Linked DNA regions of Homo sapiens: region 2 is linked to region 1. Evidence: fine-mapped QTL for protein levels in blood plasma. A gene starts in region 1. The other region holds a variant in brackets. All regions are shown on one strand. Distances are between the middles of the regions.

The links. A credible set is the group of variants that fine-mapping cannot tell apart. PIP is the posterior inclusion probability: the model's chance that the variant is causal. Protein levels are from the aptamer-based SomaScan assay of Sun 2018.
Region 2: its variant is the best candidate, but not a certain one, in a credible set for the plasma level of the TREM1 protein (Sun 2018, PIP 0.84).

What each region holds. Positions count from the first base shown.
Region 1 is chr6:41,284,602-41,289,983 of GRCh38, reverse strand. It overlaps TREM1 (triggering receptor expressed on myeloid cells 1), which reads left to right and starts at 3,302. Exons shown (of 4, transcript NM_018643.5): 1 at 3,302-3,377. The coding sequence starts at 3,329. RefSeq lists a silencer at 1,228-1,317.
Region 2 is chr6:41,271,146-41,276,499 of GRCh38, reverse strand. It overlaps TREM1 (triggering receptor expressed on myeloid cells 1), which reads left to right. Exons shown (of 4, transcript NM_018643.5): 4 at 270-2,895. The coding sequence ends at 375. Among named protein-coding and RNA genes, the nearest start is that of TREM1, 13 kb to the left of the region's middle. The variant G/A (reference allele first, on the strand shown) is at 247.

The DNA of each region.
Region 1 (5,382 bases):
CCTTGGTTTGAGTGGAGATTCTGAAACTCGCTTTGTCTTTGCTGGCTGGTTCCCTGCTGGACTCTCGATAGGGGCATTAGAGGGAGATTGGGAGGCTGGAGGAGGAAGACAGGACATGCTCACTGATTCCTATTTCATTCTCTTTCATTGTGAGTAGCCTCAGTGATGCTTTTCACGGGCAACAGTGACTGGTTCCAGTTTGCAGTTTTCCCCACTCTCAGAAGTAGTCTCATTGGGCCTCCTCAGAGATATCAGCACCAGGGTCACACTATCCTCAGAGATCTGTGTTCCAGTTCCATGTGGGCCCCTCCTCTGAGCCAGAAAAGAAGATATTTTATATGCAATCTCATTGTTAAAAAATGTTACACATATATTCTAGCTAGGTTAGATTAACCAATCTTTATTAAGGAAGAAACTGCTAATTTACCCCATAGTGAAGATCGAGACCTACTGACTTGGGGCAGTGACTTATTGAAGACAAAACAAAACAGAATAATATTGGTATTATTTCATTAATTGTATCAATGTTGAAACTGTATTGATTTCATAATAGCTCTGAAGATGAAGTTTGGCAAATATGGAAAGGTTCATGGTACCCAAAGACTAAATCTTCCTAGTGCTAGAGGCCACCCTATGAGCAAGCATGGAAATGGGACATGTGACCCAGCCTTAGTAAAATTAACAGGAACCATAGGTCACAAATGACAGTGCTCTTCTATGAGAAGCCTTAAGAAATAATATCTTGTTGGGAGCAGTAGCTTGAGAATTTAAAGAGACCCTAATAGTTAGGCAGGAATATCGTCCTGCCTATTCAGCCTGAAGAAGTTACTGATCGGGTCATTAAACTCCTCAGAAAAATAAAGTGGTAAGGATTAGAGAATGCTGCCATGTGCTGCACAAGGAAGTTTTGGTCCATGACAGACTGCATATATGGTGGAGGTCCCATAAGATTATAATGTCATAATACCGTATTGTTACTATGCCTCTTCTATGTTTAGATACACAAATACTTACTATTGTGTTACAAATGCCTACAGTATTGAGGACTGTAACATACTGTGCAGGCTTGCAGCCTAGGAATATGCTTTACTTTGATTTATGTTCAAGTATCATTCTCCCTTAGATTTTGTGAGGTTGAAAGGTATTTGTCTAAACTGGATGTGAATGGAGAGGGGGCCTCCGGAGAGCAAAGGGCCCTCTGTTCCCCTTCCTAATATTAATAGGCTATACCATACAGCCTAGGTGTACAGTAGGCTGTGCCATGTTAAGTTCGTGTAAGTGCACTCCATGATGTTCCTGCAACACAAAATCACCTAGCAACACATTTCTCAGAATGTATCTGTCATTAAGTGACACGTGACTATTTGCACTGTTGACCTCAAGTACACAAATAGATCAGACAAGTGGAGAAAGACCTCATTCTACTTCATTCTAATTTAAATGCAGGTGCTGTCCGTAGTTAGGAAAATGTGAAGGAGCAATCAGCCTCCAGTGATATTCAAGTCTAATTAAAAATTCTTCTTGGACTGTTTAGTTCAAAGCTCCCTCTTAATCTTCCAGGAGCTTAATCCTCCACACAAAGTATATGAAGACACAAAAATGTAGAAAGTATGTGAAATAGCTATTATTTAAGTGTGGAATATTAATTTTGTTGTAAGGAGGGGATTTATTCACTGAAATAAACTTTATTAATTTGACTCATCGCCACAGAAGTCACGTAGGCTCCTCTCTGAGTCAGAAAATGTCAAGAGCTTTCTGTCTATTTTTCCTCTTTAGGGACTGCTTGAGTACAGCAAAAGGAGGGGCCAGCAGATTTCAGTTCAAGCATGTTTGAAGCCTGTTTTCCGACATTATTTGTAGAACAAAAAATAAACATAGTAAAATCTCCACTACAAATGATCTCTATAAAGTGTAATAACATGATTTAAGTTTATGTATTATTTTCTATATTTTATAAATTGCTGCATTGAACAGCTTTAATAAAAAAAATTAAAGTTAGCCTTGAAAATTTTTTTGGTTGTTGTTTGTTTTAATTTACAGACATGATAGTACCTTTTAGCTGTTCCTATACTTGAGTAGCAATCAATTTGGGTGTAAAATATTAGGGTCATAATGTTCTTTATACCTCATCCCACTCTCTCATGGTATTTGTTACTCAGAGAAGAAATCTGAGTCCTGATTATTTCAATTCCTTTGAAGAAACCAAGTTATTTTTTTGTTTATTTAGCAGTAGGAATCTTTTTATTTAAATTTAAAAATTTTCACCTGGAAACTTCCTATTCTAGGTCTCACTTTGTGAATTTTTTCCTTGCCCATGTTGAACTCTCAACCTCCAATTTTAGATTTCTTCTCAGACCTGGAAAGCATATTTTTTAAGATAAAATTTTTAATCTTGCTTGTGATCCACCATTCCATTTTATGCTTTAAGGACATCTCTGATTTGTAGATTGGAATTCTGTGATTTGTCCTCCCTTAAATTTCTGAGCTCTTCTAAATGTCTTTATTCATTTCACATTTGGGAATATTTCTGAAGTGAATCCTCTCCATTATTGATTTGATTTTCACACTGTCAAATCTGTCTTTTCTTGCTTCTAGTACAAAACCTGCTGGATTTTTTCTTCTTGCTTCAGCGTCTTGAACCAAGTTTCCTTTTTAAATCTAAGTCTGTTCTTGTTGGGTGGTGGCAGTGTCCTCTCAAATTGTTTCTGGGGTCCCTACACCCCCGTGAGCTCCCAGGCCATGTCTGTGGCAATGCTGAAGGACAAATGCAGGGTGTGGCCCTCCTGGTGATGAAGAGGAGGTGCACCCCAGGTCACCAGAAGCCAAGAGAACCCACGGGGCTGAGCAGGGCAGGATGAAGCAACATGTTCTCACAAAAACCCTGAAGATGAGATACGATTGTCGCAGCCTCTCCCTATGTGGGCCTGACTCTCTTCACTACACTAAACTGGATGTGAATGGAGAGGGGGCCTCTGGAGAGCAAAGGGCCCTCTGTTCCCCTTCCTAATATGAATGCCTTACTTTGATTTACATTCAAGTATCATTCTCCCTTAGATTTTGTAAGGTTGAAAGGTAATTGTCATTATTACCACAGAAAGGAAAACTGGAGTTCAAAGAAACTTAACTGAGAAGTGAGTCTTGGTCTCTGTATTATTGTGTTGATGTCAGGAGTCAGAGCAACTGGTGATGAAACAGAACCCAAACTCAGTGACTCCCAGGAATGGCCTCATATCCTGTTGTGCAACTTTCCGAAGCCTCTAGGTCATTGTGGTGCCTTGTAGCTGTCCCGGGAGCCCTCAGCAGCAGTTGGAGCTGGTGCACAGGAAGGATGAGGAAGACCAGGCTCTGGGGGCTGCTGTGGATGCTCTTTGTCTCAGGTAAGACAAGGAAGAGGACTGAGCAGGGGAGGCGTTTGGTCCAGGATCTCGGGGAGCCCTTTTCTGTTGAAGCTTCAGAGCACAGGGCCATCCAAGATAGAGCCAACCAGTAGTTATGGCAGACCGTGCTGCTCTACCCAGAATTGGGAGAACATGCAGTGTCTGCACACAAAAGTAAAAGAAGGAGAGAGTCAGGGAAAAAAGATGTCTGTGCATGTCGATGTTGTTAGAGACATGCAAAGCCTAGTATGGGAATAATGATAGAGTAGATCTCATCATGGCATGATCTACAATAAGTTTATTTGATGTTGAAATTTTTTTCTTATATTCCATCATGATGTGTTTGATGTTGACAATCTGTTAAACCCAAAAGACAGAATTGATTTAACAAATATTTCCCAGGGGTCTACTATGGGACAGCAAATATACTACTGCTGAGGACACAGACGTGACCAGAAGAGGCTGGTGCTCATTTTGGTGGAGGTGATCATCCCAGCTCTCCATGGCACGCTGGGGTTGGAGGGCACAGTTGCTGAGGCTCAGCAGAGCCGGCGCATGCCCCAGCTCTTTCTTGTGTCTCCTCTTACGATCCGCACAGCTCACATCTGCACCCAAACCAGAAGCATGCGGGCTTTATTCACTCCTCCTCCTAATCCTTATGAATAACAGGAGGAAAGTGTCAATATGAGTTAAAAGCGAGGCTTGCCTTGGGAAGGCATGAAAAATCAGGGAGAGGTATCCTCCTGGGCTCTCTACTTTGAGCAAAGTCATGGACAACTGCCTTGAAGAGCCTGTGCTCAGACATTGCTCTGGGTCTTCTTGGAGCTGGGGTGATAATCTAGATGGGCAGAAGGGAGTTAGCTCCTCATGGACAAGTGCATTTCCTTGTGTTTGATTCATGTTTTTCTGAAGGAGAACTGGGAGATGGCAGAGGGCTGAAGGTTATGTACCTGTGTGAGAGAAAACCAGTGGTATATATTTCATTGTGCCCTGTGGGGATAGGTTAGGGGTTAACCTCAATGCTCCTTGCAACTGGATACTTATTCACACTTGGGCCAGGACTTCTCTAATCCCTATCAGACTGTGTTGGACCATGTAGCTCAGTGCTTTAGGTGGAACCAGAGTCCTTGGGTTTGAATCCTGGCTCTAGTACTTAACTATGGTGAGACTTTGGGCAAATCACTTAATCTGTCTGTGCCTCAGTTTCCTTATCTATAAAATGGGGAGAATAATGGTGTCAACTTTTTACTTTATAAAGATTAAATAAGATAGTCTTTAAAAACCCTTAGCACATAATACTTAATAGGTAGTATTTGCTACCCTTTTAATTAACATATTCAAAGGAATTCCCTTCTTGCAATTGTGCACAGACAGCTCAGCAGCCTTCATTTCTTATTGTCTCCTTCCTTCTGTGAGAGACAGGCAAGTTTGCAAACTCAGTCACCTGTAACTCCCACCTTCCCTGGGGAGCTGGCAAATAAAAGAGATTTATCTGTAACATTAACTTCAGAGGTTAGGGCTTCAGTGGTGGCAACTTGAGGATGGAGTCTGTGTGTCTTCCAAAGAGCCCAGCACAGTGCCTATGATAGAGAAGTCTCCCAGCCAGTCTGATGAGTGAGTGAACAAATGAGGGAACCAGGCTTGGTTTCAGACAACACTCAGCCTCTGGTCAACAGTCTCTTGGAGGCACATTCCTGACTGGAGTGTGTGGGAGTTGCCCAAGAGGTCTGTTTCCGAGGTTTCCCTAGAAACTGGAGTCTGCTCCCAGAAGAACTGGCTTTCAAGACTGATTTCACCTTTAAACTCCTTGTGAGTCCCTGAGTTGAGTCTTCCTAAGGTCAGGCAGATCTGTTGGCCTATCCTGGGGTGGGCATGCCAGGGGGCTCCATGAAAGGGTAAGCACTTGTCATTTTTCACCAGGCCTGCAAGGACCTAAGTGTGTGGTATTAATAACAGCAGTACTAGTGTTACCGTGACCCACACAGTAGACCCAGCAGCACTGTCT
Region 2 (5,354 bases), 13 kb after region 1:
CATCACAGGGAGGAGGATGGGCTGATCAGCCCGACTGTCTCCCTCCAGTGCCTCTCCTGGACAGGGACCTATACTCTCCACTGAATTGTTTCTAATCAGTAGTTTTTGGCAATGAGACAGACTGAAAAGCACAGGGTCAGGCAGTGCGGGAAAGGTGGAGCAAGGATCTAAGCAGAGGAGAGTGGGACATGAAGGCATTTTCTAGAGGGAACATGTGCGTGTGGGAGAGACTTTGCCAGCAGTAGC[G/A]TTCAGCCTCTTGTCTCCCGCAGGGTTCCGGTGTTCAACATTGTCATTCTCCTGGCTGGTGGATTCCTGAGTAAGAGCCTGGTCTTCTCTGTCCTGTTTGCTGTCACGCTGAGGTCATTTGTACCCTAGGCCCACGAACCCACGAGAATGTCCTCTGACTTCCAGCCACATCCATCTGGCAGTTGTGCCAAGGGAGGAGGGAGGAGGTAAAAGGCAGGGAGTTAATAACATGAATTAAATCTGTAATCACCGGCTATTTCTAAAGTCAGCGTCTCACCTTCCTGCCCACTGCCCTCGTTCCTCTAATAATCTTGGGTGGGCATTTGTGCCTCAGAAAAGAAGTTACAGCCCCAAACATGCTTGGTCCTTCATTCCACCAGCCACTTGGGGTTGGCATGAAATACAGACAGCTCAATGCTTTTCACCGTAATTCTCTTGTGGGGGCTGTGACATGCAGAAGGCACACCTGATACTTCTCCTGCTCAGTTTTGCCCTGGACCATACAATTTTGGCCTGACCTGGACAGAGCTCCCACTACAGAAGCATCCTGCTCGCCCCATGCTGGGACTTCCTCTTTCTAGCATCAGACACTTGGGTTTCATGCTTATGTGTGGTTCTTTCCAACACTCCCAGAAAAGGGTGTTGAAGATTGTGGAACCTGGAGAAATAAGACATCGTGGTGAGAAAGTGCATCCTTCTCAGAGAAAAGAGTTAAACTGAGTATCTTCTTCTGGGGAAATACTGGCAGGCCGAGATGGGATCCATAGGAGAGCAACAACAGACCATGTCAGACATCCTGTGTGCATTTATCGCTGGATCCTGAAAATAGCCCCGTGAAGGCAGAAATGTATGTGACTAGAACGAGGCCACATGAATAAGCCACTGCCCACTGGCAGGAGTGAAAACTGAAGCGCTCCTTACCTGAAGGACCCCAAAACCATATAGAATAGAATAACCAGGAGTTCCGCCTGTGTCTAAATGCCTCTTTTCCTGTATCACACAAGGGTCAGGGATGGTGGAGTAAAAGCTCTCCCCCTGGGAGGCTTCTGGAGGCTGTCCCCATGTGCTTGCCTAGTTCCCCACTCTGCCCTCCTCCTCTTCTCTCAGTCTGCTCCTGGAACACCTGCCTCAGTTTCCATGCTCTCTCCAGTGCCCTCCCCGGTGAAGCAGGTAGGTGTTCAGGCCACCACAGAGACAATCTCTGTGGGAGATTGTCTTGCAATCTCCCACAGATTTCAATCAGGATTTTGTTATTTCCTACTTTGAGCTTTAAAGGGAAATGGGCCTCATGGGTGGGGAAAGGATGGTGGGTCCTTCCAGCCCAATTTAGTGATGCCCAGGGCAGATATTATCCTCAGTTCCCAAGAGCAATCATACTTTTCCACACATACCGTGTGTCTCATGTTAGGTAAATGTATTTTTACAATGAGCACCACTTCTGTGGAAAAAGTTCCCTGCACGGGGAGGTCCAGCTTCCAGACTGCTCCATCGCATAAGGACTTCCCCATTCCCCTAAATGCTGCTCTGTCAGAACCTGCCCAGGTAATGGTAATGACCCTAGAGAGATGATTTCTGAACCGCAATTTTGAGCCCATTAGAAGGTGTGTGGTGGGCATTTATTTCATCCTGATGCTCTGGTGAGAATCTTTGCAGACGCACTAGATCCAGAAGCTGTTAATCTTGGTGCATTTATTTTCCTACCTAAAAGAACCAAGCAGCTCAGAGGCAGTGACTGTACAGGATGCAGTGTTTATAATAATGCTGAGCTTGCTGGTCTGGAACCCCACACTTTAGCAATCCCAGCATTGTTCCTGTTTATGAAGTTGACAAAGTGACCAGGGCAAGGGGGTATTATCATTAAATACACTCTAGGAGAGGCAGAACACATGAGGGCAATGTTTTTCAGAGGTCTTTAGGCCACCGCATCAGATTCTCCTGGAGCATAAAGCAAATGCTTTATGAGTCCAGGGCCCCTGCAGACCTACTGTATACTAGTATACAGCTCCCTCTTAGTGGATCTCAAGCTTGTTTCCAAAAAGTCATTACACTCCTTACCAAAGCCCATGACACATTCATACAGATTCATCCAGACATAACCCACTGCATGGTCCAGTGCATGCTTGTGTGCTTAACTTATTATAGATCAAGTGTTATTTAAGTCCAACATATTAAACGTGACTGAAATATTATATGCACTAAATCGGAAGACAAATGGCCGTGCTGGATACTCTCCCATTTGCACTTACAGGCCACGCCATGCTCCATCCTCCCCATCCTGCCTGGGAACCTGACCAATGTGGCTAAACCAGCAGGCTCCCTGGCTGCCAGCTTCTGGCTGGTTGAGCCAATGGGAAGCATGAGAGGAGAGCCGAGGGTGGGGAGACAGTCAGATCAGGGTTTCTGTCCTCAGGGCTCCCTCCCTGGCAGGTGGTGGCAGGAGTGGCTGCATTCCCCTCTGAAGGCTCCTTCAAGCCTCTCAGCAAACAGCTCCCATCTCCAAGTCCAGCCACCTGTTCCATCCTCTCCTCTGTAGGCCCAGCAGTGGGAATGACCCACCACTATTGCCAGCCTCAGCATACTGAAGCACCCCTTACTGGATTCCCTAAATTCTATGCACATGTTTATTAAATGCTCCTCAATTACCCAGTTTCAATGAGCCAGCGGTGTCTTGCTGTTATCTTGACTGATACAATAGTGTTGTGTGGCTAACGACACAGGTCTTGGAGGAAAACCATGTATGGGTTTGAATCTAGCTCTGCATCCTTGCAGGGTGTCTGATCCTGGGTGACTCAGTTAACCTTCTGGGCTTCAATATTCCTCCTTGCCTTAATGGGCATGATAGTGCCTAACCATGCCAGTGATGATTTTGGATGCTAACAACAGAATCCAACTCTGGCTATCTAAAACAGCAAGGGAATTCTAGGGGGATATCAGTAACTCAGAGTTGATGAGAGGCTGGGGGATTGGGTTTAGAAAATGGGCAGAAGCCAAGAGAGAATGGACAGCAGAGGCCACATGAGACAGTCTGGACATGTTGCCATCAATGCCACTGCCCTGGATACTGGAGGCCACCATGCTATTCCTAGACTCTGAATCCTTAAATTGCCTCTGAGTAAGTAATCTGCAACTGGCCCTGCATTTGAGCCTCATCCGCAGATCTGGGGTCCTGGGCAGAATCATGCATGTGGCCAGGCTTAGGTCAAGTCACGTGCCTGCAGCACAGCTGCCGGGAGAAGGGTGGGAGGAATAGCTGCTTCCATCCTCAATAGAAGGGGAAGCAGAACTCTGCATCTGGTGAAACTCACACATTGGGGCCTGTGCCCCCAAAAGAAAAAGGTGTTTGGTACTGGAGAGTCAAAAGATGACACACCTCCATTATACCATCTCCCAATGTTGACAGGATCCAAGGAGACGCCTGAGTAAAGCACCTGACACACAGTAGGACTTCAATCCATGGTGGTTACTGCTATTACTGTTATAACTGGGGTCTCCATGCCTGTGCCTGGACAGGTTAGCTCAGGGAAGCCCATACCTGGTACTCAGGCAAAGCCCCTGAGTCACCGAGACATGCTGCAGGGTCCATCTTACCTATATGCAGCTCTTGCAGACATGGTCAACTTGGACTCCTTGCCTCAGAACCACCTAAGCTGTTGCTAAAATACAGATTCCTGGGTCCCTTCCCAGATCTGCCAAGTCAGAATATCTGGTGGTGGAGCCTGGGTGTGTATGTCTGCCACACTTCCTGAGTGAAGCCACGTGCCTGTCCTTGGGAACCATGGTGCGGGGTGATATTAAAGAGGGAGGATGTAGCAGAAAGGCTTGAACCCGGCCTTGGGGGATGAACAATGTTTGTTTGCGCAGCACCATTTCACAGGGAGACTGGGGTGCAGGCTTGCGGGTTGTAGGGGTCAGTGGTCAGTGATGAGGAGGTTGGTGGCCTGAAGGGGTGAGTGACGCAGTGGGGACATCAGGTGGGTGGGTCTAGACTCACCATGGTGCAGAAAGGGAAGCAACTGAGTGTTCCCATCAGGACTGTGACATCATGATGGCAGGAAAGAAGCTGTCACAAGGGTGGCCAGCCTGCCTCTCTTTTTCTGCATCTTCCTGAGCTGTTCCCCGAGTCACACTTCCCCCAAGGTTTGTCAATTGTAAAGTAGCCACCCAGCCTCGTGGGGAGATGGTGACCGCGTATGTGGGGCAACATCCTGCAGCAACTACAAGAGGCCCTGGGCCAGCCGGCAGACAGCACATCTGGGTGGCAGATAGAGTGGAGGGGGCAGGGCTCTGAGGGTGGCCCTGGCTGCTGCTGCTGCTGCTCCTGCTGCTGCAGGTAAGGAGAGTGGGTAAGCAGGCTGGGGAAGAGGGGACCAGGGAGAGGGATGTAGACAGCCCAGCAGAAGTGCCCACTAATGGGAGTTTCCTCTTATATCTTTGGGATGGACTGGAATGGGATCAGGTAATGTGGTACAAATGGGAAAGGGAAAGGAGGCAATGCATGCAGACGGTGCTTGTCCAGCCTGACCCAGGAGGGACTGGGCGATGAAACAGAAGCTGGAGGTCCCTCTACTGCATCTTGAAGTTGAGAGAATTAGGTGGATTCAGCAGAGCAATCCCCCAGCACTGTGCTGATATCCTGGGAGATGTAAAGAAAAGCGAGACAGAGTCTCCCCTTAAAAAAGCATTCACTCACTGTGCAGAGGAGGCGTTAGTAGAGCAAAAGGTAAATAACAGCAAAAAGACAGGCAGTAACATGAAAACAAAACTTCTGTGGAAGTCACTCTAGCAGGGCACAGAAGGGAATGTGGAGAAGAAGACAAGAGTTCTGGAATCAGACAGGGCTGGGGCAAATCCTGTCTCAGCCACACTCTATGTATGTGACCTTGAGTAAGGTTTCTAACCTCTATTAGGCTCAGTTTCCTCACTGTAAATGGAACCGACTCACAGGTATCAGAGGGTTGTCTTAAGAATTAAACAGTGGATGTATGGAAAGCCCTTGGCTCAGTATTTAGGGCCTAATAAGTGCTTAATAAATGTTATGATGGGAGATGATGATGATGGAACCAGGTGTAGGGTGATCCGTGATATTTAGGGTGAAGAGGAGGTAGAGA